3 linked regions of the Homo sapiens genome follow. The gene in region 1 interacts genetically with each later gene. Each region holds a gene or a part of one and is shown on either strand. Other genes may lie near its edges. The genes, in order: MBTPS2, CKAP5 and ERH.

What was found.
Region 2: changes in MBTPS2 (region 1) and CKAP5 together harm fitness more than expected from each alone (negative genetic interaction), as found in Homo sapiens cells (one large-scale study listed by BioGRID).
Region 3: changes in MBTPS2 (region 1) and ERH together harm fitness more than expected from each alone (negative genetic interaction), as found in Homo sapiens cells (one large-scale study listed by BioGRID).

What each region holds. Positions count from the first base shown.
Region 1 is NC_000023.11:21,877,617-21,881,116, forward strand, and holds part of MBTPS2 (membrane-bound transcription factor site-2 protease), read left to right. Parts: intron 1-425; coding exon 426-520; intron 521-880; coding exon 881-1,076; intron 1,077-3,280; coding exon 3,281-3,356; intron 3,357-3,500. UniProt on the Homo sapiens protein: Zinc metalloprotease that mediates intramembrane proteolysis of proteins such as ATF6, ATF6B, SREBF1/SREBP1 and SREBF2/SREBP2.
Region 2 is NC_000011.10:46,742,411-46,745,379, reverse strand, and holds the end of CKAP5 (cytoskeleton-associated protein 5), read left to right. Parts: intron 1-802; coding exon 803-954; intron 955-1,114; coding exon 1,115-1,357; 3' UTR 1,358-2,332; downstream 2,333-2,969. UniProt on the Homo sapiens protein: Binds to the plus end of microtubules and regulates microtubule dynamics and microtubule organization. Acts as a processive microtubule polymerase. Promotes cytoplasmic microtubule nucleation and elongation. Plays a major role in organizing spindle poles.
Region 3 is NC_000014.9:69,388,169-69,391,904, reverse strand, and holds part of ERH (enhancer of rudimentary homolog), read left to right. Parts: intron 1-3,736. UniProt on the Homo sapiens protein: May have a role in the cell cycle.

The sequences.
Region 1 (3,500 bases):
GGATGTCTTAGGCAACCTCTGGCCCCCTCTGTTTACCAGCACCACAGTGCAGGGGTTCAGCAGTAATGTTGGATCATTGGCATTCAGGCACATAATAGTAGTTCATTAAATGTTTGTGCTTGACCAGCCAGACTTATTATTGTGAAACCTACTGAGACACTGCAACTCCGGCTTTATGGGTAGCTCAGTTTATATGAGGACAACTAACCTAGGGTAACTGCTGCTTCATGATTTAAAATTGAATGGATCTCTTTTGGTAATGTAAAATCAAACTGCAGCAAGTAGCCCTCAAGCTGAACTCTGAATTATACAGTTGCTTCTAAATTCATATGCCATTTTACTTATTCTTTTTGTCTTAAAGGCATTTTTTGTTACAAATGTATTTTTATATAAGAGACTCTAATAAACAGTGTATTTCTCTTTAGCATACAAACGACTAGATGGTTCAACTGAATGCTGTAACAATCACAGCCTCACAGATGTGTGCTTTTCCTACAGAAATAATTTTAATAAGCGTTTGGTAAGTTGTCCCTGAAGCAGTCTTGCTTGTCTGATATAATTACTAAAAAATAAGCATATAGAGCTAAAATGGAATCTATGGAAACTTCTCTCTTTTGCTCTATTTGTATCATTTTATTAAAATCTCTACATTTCACATGTCACATTTCATCTGAAAATCTTTAAAAATTTATAGTGATAATATCTTATTTGACCCAAATGGGGTACTTGAATCTATTTTATAGTAGATGCACATAAATGGCATTTCTTTTATATGAACCTCATTCCTGATATGCTAGGTGACATGAAAAATATTGAAGGAATGTAACTTAGGTTTTTCTTAATCATTTTTAATATTGACTGATTAATATTTTATTTATAGCATACATGTCTTCCTGCCCGGAAAGCAGTTGAAGCAACTCAAGTTTGCAGAACCAATAAAGACTGTAAAAAAAGCTCAAGTTCAAGTTTCTGTATAATACCTTCTTTGGAAACTCACACTCGCTTAATAAAAGTAAAACACCCACCTCAGATTGATATGTTATACGTAGGACATCCTCTGCATCTTCACTACACAGGTGAGTATTTTTGTGGTAGACCCTTAGAAAATCATTAAGATCACATATAGTCTCAGTGGTAGAGACTCACTACAAATCCTTGAATTAATACATTTATTATAAATTTGATCATTTATCAAAGTCTTGTTAACTTGTTCTTAAGCATTAAGTGAAAATTATGCAGTAGGAAAATAATCTGAATTTATAAAGTAAGGTGGAGCTGAATCCATGCCTGCCTATGGAGAGTGACACATTTTTCCTTCCCTACCATTTATGCCCAGGTCAAATAGGTGATCTCTCAGATGTCCTCTGAGAGTTTATTAAATTTATACAAGCTCCCCAAAACAGGCAAGAGCAACATACCCTAGAGAATGCCAGGATGCATGGGGATGTAACTGTAATTTATGTGTGACACATGACTTTCATATGAATATACTTTCAAAACTGGGCCAGCATAATCATTTTAGCAGTGGCAGCATCATTGGACTAAGTTCTTTATGGCTAAAGATCATGTAGTCTAACTCATTTTGTTGTACAAGATTTTTAAAATAGTTTACCATGCGATTTACCCATTAAAGTTTACAGTTCAGTGGGGTTTTGTTTGTTTGTTTGTTTTTGTTTTGTTTTGAGACAGATTCTCACTCTGTCGCCCAGACTGGAATGCAGTGGCTCAATCTTGGCTCACTGCAACCTCCACACCTCGGGCTCAAGTGATCCTCCCACCTCAGCCTCCCAAGTAGCTGGGACTACAGACGTGTTCCACTGTGCTGGGCTAATTTTTTGGGTTTTGTAGAGACGGAGTCTCACTTTGTTACCCAGGCTGATCTCAAACTCCTGAGCTCAAGCAATTCTCCCTCCTCAGCCTCCAAAAGTGCTGGGATTACAGGCAAGAGGCACTGTGCCCGGCCCAGTGATTTTTAATATATTGAGTTGTGCAACCATTACCACAAGCTAGCTGCAGAATATTTTCATCACCCCAAAAAGAAACTCCATAACCATTAAGTAGTCACTCCCTGTATCTCCCCAACACCCCCAGCCCTTGGCAATCTCCAATCTACTTTCTGTTTCTATAAATTTGCCTGTTCTTGTCATTTCATATAAATGGAATATTTTATGACTAGCTTCTTTGATGTAGCTTAATGTTTTCAAGGTTTATCTGTGTTGTGGCATGAATTAGTACTTCATTCTTTTTAAGGCCAAATGATATTCCTTTGTATGGATAGACCACATTTTCTTTATTCATTCATAGTTAATGGATATGTGGGTTTTATGTTATTCTTTTTTTTTTTTTTTTTTTTTGAGACGGAGTTTCGCTCTTGTTGCCCAGCCTGGAGTGCAATGGCGCAATCTCGGCTCACTGCAGCCTCTGCCTCCCGGGTTCAAGCAATTCTCCTGCCTCAGCCTCCAGAGTAGCTGGGATTACAGGTGCCCACCACCACGCCCAGCTAATGTTTGGTATTTTTGGTAGAGACAGGGTTTCACCATATTGGTCAGGCTGGTCTCAAACTCCTGACTTCAGGTGATCTGCCCGCCTTGGTCTCCCAAAGTGCTGGGATTACAGCGTGAGGCACCGCACCCAGCCTATGTCACTCTTTAAAAGACTCTCTCATTGCTCCATAGTCATATCCTGAGATACAACCGAGGTCATTTTTCTTATCTATTAGTTTGACACTAAATTACTGTAGACTGTAACTATGAAATAAAACCTCAACAAATGAATAAATGTCCCTAGTGGGGGTAATTCAGGAATGTGTACTGTGAGTTCTGACTAATTACAGGATAGTTTTAAAATGTTTTGAACAAAAACAGGATTATGGAATCCACAGAGTAGATGAGACTTTAAATCCCCTCATCTTAATCCTTGGTTTAGCCATGAAGAAAAAAAAAAGACCTGAAAGAGGTTAAGTAGTATAATAGTAGGAGTAAATGTAATTTTAAGGTTATACCTCTTTGAAAGGGTAAGGACTCTTAATGTAAATTTCTTACTCTCGCCTCAAAATGTAAGTACACACTGGGACGTATTTTTTCATTCTGCTGTTTTTATTAGATGTTCTAGAAGTATTGATTGCTTTTATATATGAGGTATATGGCCTGCATATGTTTAGGAAGGGCTTTCTCAATCAGTTTAATCTGCTAGCCCAATTTTTAACCATATGGTAGAATTCATAATGCTGTTGATTCTCTGGTATGAATAATATTTATTATTCCTTATTTTTCTTTTTCAGTGAGCATCACCAGTTTTATCCCACGTTTTAACTTTCTAAGCATAGATCTGCCAGTGGTTGTGGAGACATTTGTCAAGTATCCTTTCTGGTGTGAAACATGTTTTAAAAGTGTGTTACTTGGATCTTGATCAATTTTACCTTGAATACAGCATTACAAATATAGACCTCACAAGTATCACTTAATTGCTAACAACTAAAAAAGAGTCTTGAAAGATGAAAA
Region 2 (2,969 bases), on another chromosome or scaffold:
ATTCATTTTTCACCCCCTCAGAGGATTCTCCTCATCTTTACATTAAAGGAGTCCTTTTTCCCTGGAGTAACCTTTCTACTTTTCTATTTACCATAAGGCAGTGTTTCCTCCCAGTACCTTACCTTTGGGGCCTGTGGAATGCATTTGCATTGATACCAAGTGAAATATTTTAAAGGCCCGCATTGTATCATTGTTCATTCTCAGAAATTTAGGAAGTGTGATGGATTTTTTGTTGTTTTGGTTTTCCTCTCTCCTGCCAGAATATTGATCTTAGTGGTAGGGTTACAGACACTCCAGTTCTATGCCCTCTTTAGATAATTGTTGGACACCTTCTCTTCCCCATGAATACACCATAGCCTTGGACACCTTGCTTCCTTCACAGGTTCAAATGAGTTTCTCCTATGTGACATTGGTCCAAACTTAATCTAATTCTTCCAAACATTTAAGGTCCTCGGGTTTTTCAGTTGGGCAATTACAGTATGCTTAGGAGTAGCTTCAGCTTTTTGGATTGCCCAAGTCAGCCCTGGGATTACTGGAGTACAATCCCCTGCATAACCCAGGATGCAGATGGATGACCCAATTTACATTCTGCCTTTCTATATCAGTTTTTTGCATTCTCAAGAAGCTTATATTGTATATTTCAGAGCACCCTTATCACCAACTCCAGGTAGATTCTTGTGGAATTTGTCGTTTTCAAGTATAGGAAATTCTTAATTGTTCTTTTTGGTGGGAGATTAACCAAGGCACTTTAGAAGGGGGATATGTGGATATCTGAATATTCTTTCTACTTTTTCCCCTCTAGGCATCTCCCCTCAGATGGAAGTCACATGTGTGCCCACGCCCACAAGCACAGTGTCCTCCATAGGTAACACAAATGGGGAAGAAGTGGGGCCATCTGTCTACTTGGAAAGGCTAAAGATCCTCCGACAGCGATGTGGTCTGGACAACACAAAGGTACTGCTCCTTTTCTTCTGTGCAGTTCAGGGAGGGTAGTCACAAGCAGGTCCGAGGCAGGCTGGCCCACAGAGAAGTGGCTTAGTCTTGCTGTAGTTCTGGAGCTGCATCTTGACCTGCTTGACCTGACCTTAGACAATCTCTCTCCTTCTCTCAATAGCAAGATGACCGACCTCCTTTGACCTCTTTGCTCTCCAAACCAGCAGTTCCTACTGTCGCCTCTTCCACAGACATGCTCCACAGCAAACTCTCTCAGCTCCGGGAGTCACGGGAGCAGCACCAGCATTCAGACCTGGATTCTAACCAGACTCACTCTTCAGGAACTGTGACCTCCTCCTCCTCCACAGCTAACATAGACGACTTGAAAAAAAGACTGGAGAGAATAAAGAGCAGTCGCAAATGAAGCTGCCCCACTCCCCCGGCACCCTGCAGCTTTAGTTTACTAAACTAGAAGTCCTCATAGTTTAAAATGGCCTCAGCAGGCCTAGTGTATACAAACTGGTTGTATGTATCATGCCGTGGAGCTAGGGGGAGGAGTCATTGTGGCACAAGTATTTGTACATACTCTGCTTCTCTCTGTCAGCGTCCTGCTGCTCTAGAAGACTGTCCGTGGATGAGTTTAGTGTACAGACTTGTAAACAGCTGCCCCCTCTCTGCTCAGTCTAGTTCCCAGATCCTTTTCTTTTCTTTTTAATTGCTCATTTGTAAAATTGTCCTAATCTTTCCTAGCTTTTTAATAGTTAATATTAGAAACTCTTTAATAGTTTTCCTTTCAGTTTGTGAGCTCTTCTCTGTCGCCCTGAAGGGTCACTGTATTCTGTATGAATGCATGGCATGATACAACTAATTTAAGAGTCTTTTATAAATAAAGTTTGCATTAACTATACCTGACTCCCAAGATGCTCCATATCATGGAGTGTTGGGCAGCAATTTTTTAACTTTTGGTACCAGCTGGGTATTCAGCCAGTTAGAGAAAGGTTAATTACTGCTTACAGAGCTTCCCTTTTTCTTGGCTCACAGACTTGGAGCTGTCTTTTATTCCTTTGGAATGGAAGGAACTCTCCTTCCCTGCTCTCCACAAACAGCTCCTAGGGAGCAGAAAAATCTCATCCTTCCTTGTTTTGAGATTTTGGTCATGATTTCCCTCCAATTATCACCAGTCGTTTCAAGAAGCTCTTGGGCATCCTACCACTTTGCTGACCAAAGGCACACAAGATTGCGCCCAGAGATTGGCTGGGCTTCAGTGGTTCTCACACTACAACTAGATTTGTGTTCATTTGACTAATGGAGTTTGGGAAATCTTAGTGGTTTGCTGCTTGGTTGTATGAGTCTCTTTTGGTCCAGGCTAACAGTTGCTTCACATTCAGTCAGAGTAAGGATGAGAAAGTGAGCTGAGTATTCACCTCTGGAATAAATTCCACAGGACCTCCCTCCACAGTCAGAAAAACTCTTCAGGATGAAAAGGTTCTGGATTCAGGAGGAGATTTTGGGCAGTTATAAAGTTCAAAGGAACTTTCCTATTGTAGCCCACCTTCAATTCAATTGATGTCCAAGAAATGAAAGATTGATGGAAGATTAATCCTGTAAAGGTTCCAGTCATCGTTTTCAGGTGGCCCCGGAGCCTCCTGAAATTAAACTTGTCTCTCCTTTATAGTGGGAACATGGGAGTGGGTATTTGTTCACTGAAGGGATGATGGAGGCGTTTGCTGCTATAGTGGAAAGACATATTTAGAAAGAATGGCTACAAAGGCTGGGCCTGGTGGCTCACTCATACAACCGTAGCATTTTGGGAGGCTAAGGTGGGTGAATCACTTGAGCCCAGGAGTTCAAGACCAACATGGGCAACATGGCTCTACCAAAAAAATACAAAAATTAGCTGGGTATAGTGGCTCAAGCCTGTAGTCCCAGCTACTTGGGAGGCTGAGGTGGGAGGATCACCTGAGCCCAGGAGGTCAAGGCTGCAGTGAGCCGTGATCACTCCACTACACTCCAGCCTGGGCAACAGAGCAAGACCT
Region 3 (3,736 bases), on another chromosome or scaffold:
GGTTTTGACATGTATAATTACGTGTATCTACCTTTACTGTATCATACAGAGTAGTTTCACTACCAGAAATCCCCATTGCTCCACCTATACCTCCTTCCCTGCCACCACCCCCAAACCCCTGATCTTTTTACCATATCTGTAGTTTTGCCTTTTCTGGAATGTCATGTTAGAGTTACGGAGTATGAAGCCTTTTCAGACTGGCTGCTTTAACCTAGCAATATGCTTTTTTTTTTTTTTTTTTTTTTTTTTTGGCGTGCGAGACAGAGTCTTACTCTGTCACCCAGGCTGGAATGCTGTGACGTAATCTCAGCTCACTGCAACCTCTGCCTCCCTGGTTCAAGCGATTCTCCTGCCTCAGCCACCCAAGTAGCTGGGATTACAGGCCTGCGCCACCATGCCTGGCTACCTTTTTTTGTATTTTTAGTAGAGACGGGTTTTACTGTGTAGGCCAGGCTGGTCTCAAACTCCTGACCTCAAGTGATCCGTCCACCTCAGCCTCCCAAAGTCTGGGGATCACAGGCATGAGCCCCCATGCCTGGCCAACCTAGCAGTATGCTTTTATGGTTCTTACTTTTTGTGTGTGTGGCTGCATAGCTGATTTCTTTTTATTGCTGAATAATATTCCCTTGAATGAATGTACCATGGTTTGGTTATCCATTCACTTATTGAAGAGCATCTTGGTTGCTTCTATTTTTTGGCAATTATGAATAAAGCTGCTATAAACATTTCTGTGTAGGCTTTTGTGTGGACCTAAGTTTTCAGCTCATTTGCGTAAATACGTAGGAGAGTGATTGCTAGATTATGTGGTACAAGTATGTTTAGCTTTGTCAGAAACTGCCAAACTGTCTTCAGACGTGGCAGGACCATTTTGCATTCCCACCAGCGTGAATGAGTTTCTGTTCCACATCCTTACCAGCATTTGGTGTTGTCACTGATTTAGATTTTAGCCATTCTAAGGTATCTTATTGTTTTAATTTGCAATTCCCTAATGACATACAATGTCATCTTTTCATGTGCTTATTTGCCATCTGCATCTTTATTGAGGTATCCAGATCTTCTGCCTATTTTTCATTGAGTGATTATGGTTAAGTTTTAGGAGTTCTTTGTATATTTTTAGACATTAGTCCTTTATCAGATAGATGTTTTATAAAGGTTTTCTCCCCGTTTGTGGTGTCTTCTCACTTTCTTAATAGTGTCTTTTGGAGCACAAAAGTTTTTTATTTTTATAAACTTTAACTTGCATATTTTTGTGTTTTTGGTGTCATATCTAAGAAACCATTGGTTTATCCAAGGTCACAAATATTAATGCCTTTATTTTTTTCTATGGGTCTTATAGTTTGGGCTCCTACTTTTAAGTCTCTGGTCTGTTGTAGAGATGTGTCCAACTTCATTCTTTCACATGTGACTATCCTGTTGTCCTAGCATCATTTGTTGAAAATACTGTTCTTTGTTGAATTGTTTTGGCATGCTTGTCAAAAAGCAGTTGACCATAAATGTGAGGGTTTGTTTCTGGACTCTCATTTCTGTTCCATTGATGTAGATACCTATCCTGATGCCAATACCATATTGTCTTGATTGGAGTAGTTTCATAGTAAGTTTTGAAATCAGGAAGTTTGAATCCTCCAGTGTTTTTCTTTTTCAAGATTATTTTGGCTGTCTTGGGTCTCCTGCATTTCTGTGTCAAACTTAGGATTAGCTTGTTGGTTTCTGCAAAAACAGCTTGGATTTTTATGGGAATTGCGTTGAATCCGTAGATCATCTGAGGGAGTATTGGCATCAGGTCTTCCAACTCATGAACATGGGATGTCTTTCCATTTATTAAGCATGGTGTGGTGGCTTTACTTTCTGCATGGCGTGGTGGCTCACACCTGTTATCCCAGGACTTTGGGAGGCCAAGGTGAGCGGATTGCTTGAGCCCAGGAGTTTGAGACTAGCCTGGGCAACATGATGAAACCCCTGCTCTCCAAAAAGTACAAAAATTAGCTGGGCATGGTGGCGCGTACCTGTAGTCACAGATCCTTGGGAGGATCACTTGAACTTAAGAGGTCAAGGCTGCAGTGAGCTGCAATTGGGCCACTGCACTCCAGCCTGGGCAACAGAATGAGACTGTGTCTCAAGGGAAAGAAAAGAGTCCTTCCATGACATTTTATAGTGTAGGGTGTACACGTTTTGTACTACTTTTGTTTCGTTTATTTCTAAGAATTTTATTCTTTTTTACGCTGTTATAAATGGAGTTTTCTTAATTTTATTTTCAGACTTGTTGTTAAGGCATAGAAATAAAATTTATTTTCATATACCAATCCTATATCCTGCAACCTTGCTGTACTCATTTCTTAGTTCTAATAGATTTTTATTGTTTCCTTAGGATTTTATATCTGTAAGATAATGTCATCTGCAAATAATGATGGCTGTACTTCTTCCTTTCCAATCTGAAGGCCTGTTATCTCTTTTTCTTGCCTAATTGCCCTGGCTAGAACTTCTAGTACAATGTTGAATACAAGTAGCGCAATAAATATTCTGGTATTCTTCCTAATCTTAACAGAAAAGCATCCCGTCTTTAACCATTAAGTATAATGGAGGCCGGGCATGGTGGCTTATGCCTGTAATCCCAGCACTTTGGGAGGCCGACGCGGGTGGATCACCTGAGGTCAAGAGTTCAAGACCAGCCTGGCCAAAATCGCAAAACCCCGTCTCTACTAAAAATACAAAAATTAGCCGGGTGTGGTGGCACACACCTGTAATCTCAGCTACTCGGGAGGCTGAGCCTGAGGCAAGAGAATCGCTTGAATCCGGGAGGCAGAGGTTGCAGTGAGCCGAGATTGTGCCAATGCACTCCAGCCTGGGCAACAAGAGCAAAAAATCCATCTCAAAAAAAAAAAGTATAACTGTGGGTCAATGCCTTTTTAACATATACGAATTTATTTTCCTAGTTTTTATTTTCTTTCCATTCATTAACTCATGGGTGATATTCTGTGATCACAATGTAGTATGCCAGTAGCAATAAAAAGCCCTAAGATAGTTGTTTAATAGTTCTGTGGTTGAATAGTGTTTTTATTAGGAAATTTATAAAGTTAATTTGGAGCTAATAAAAGGCTTATGTATACAGTATAGGACATGTTTTTTCTAGATAACTAGCATTTATGTCACTTAGCCATTCATCATAGTAGTCTTAAAATAGTTGACAGCGGGAATAGACTGAAAAGGTGTATTCTCCTTTTGTGGGAATAAGAAAGGAGAGTATCAGGCCGGGCACGATGGCTCAAGCCTGTAATCCCAGCCCTTTGGGAGGCTGAGGCACGCTGATCACCTGAGGTCAGGAGTTCAAGATCAGCCTGGCCAACATGGTAAAACCCCGTCTCTACTAAAAATACAAAAAGTTAGCTGGGTGTGGTGGCGGGTGCCTGTAATCCCAGCTACTTGGGGGGCTGAGGCAGGAGAATCGCTTGAACCCAGGAGGCGGAGGTTGCAGTGAGCCAAGATCTCATCATTGCATTCCAGCCTGGGCAACAAGAGCAAAACTCCATCTCAAAGAAAAAAAAAAGGAGAGTATTATTGAATAAAAACTAAATAGATAATATACTCTATAGCTAATTATAATTAGTAATGTGGGCTTGCTATTAATGATTTTGCTCATTATCTTTTTTATTATATTTAAGTACTTATATCCTTGTTCATGTGCTAATGCTTTATGTGTATTATTTCAAATAAACCTCACAATTCTATGAAGAGGCACTCT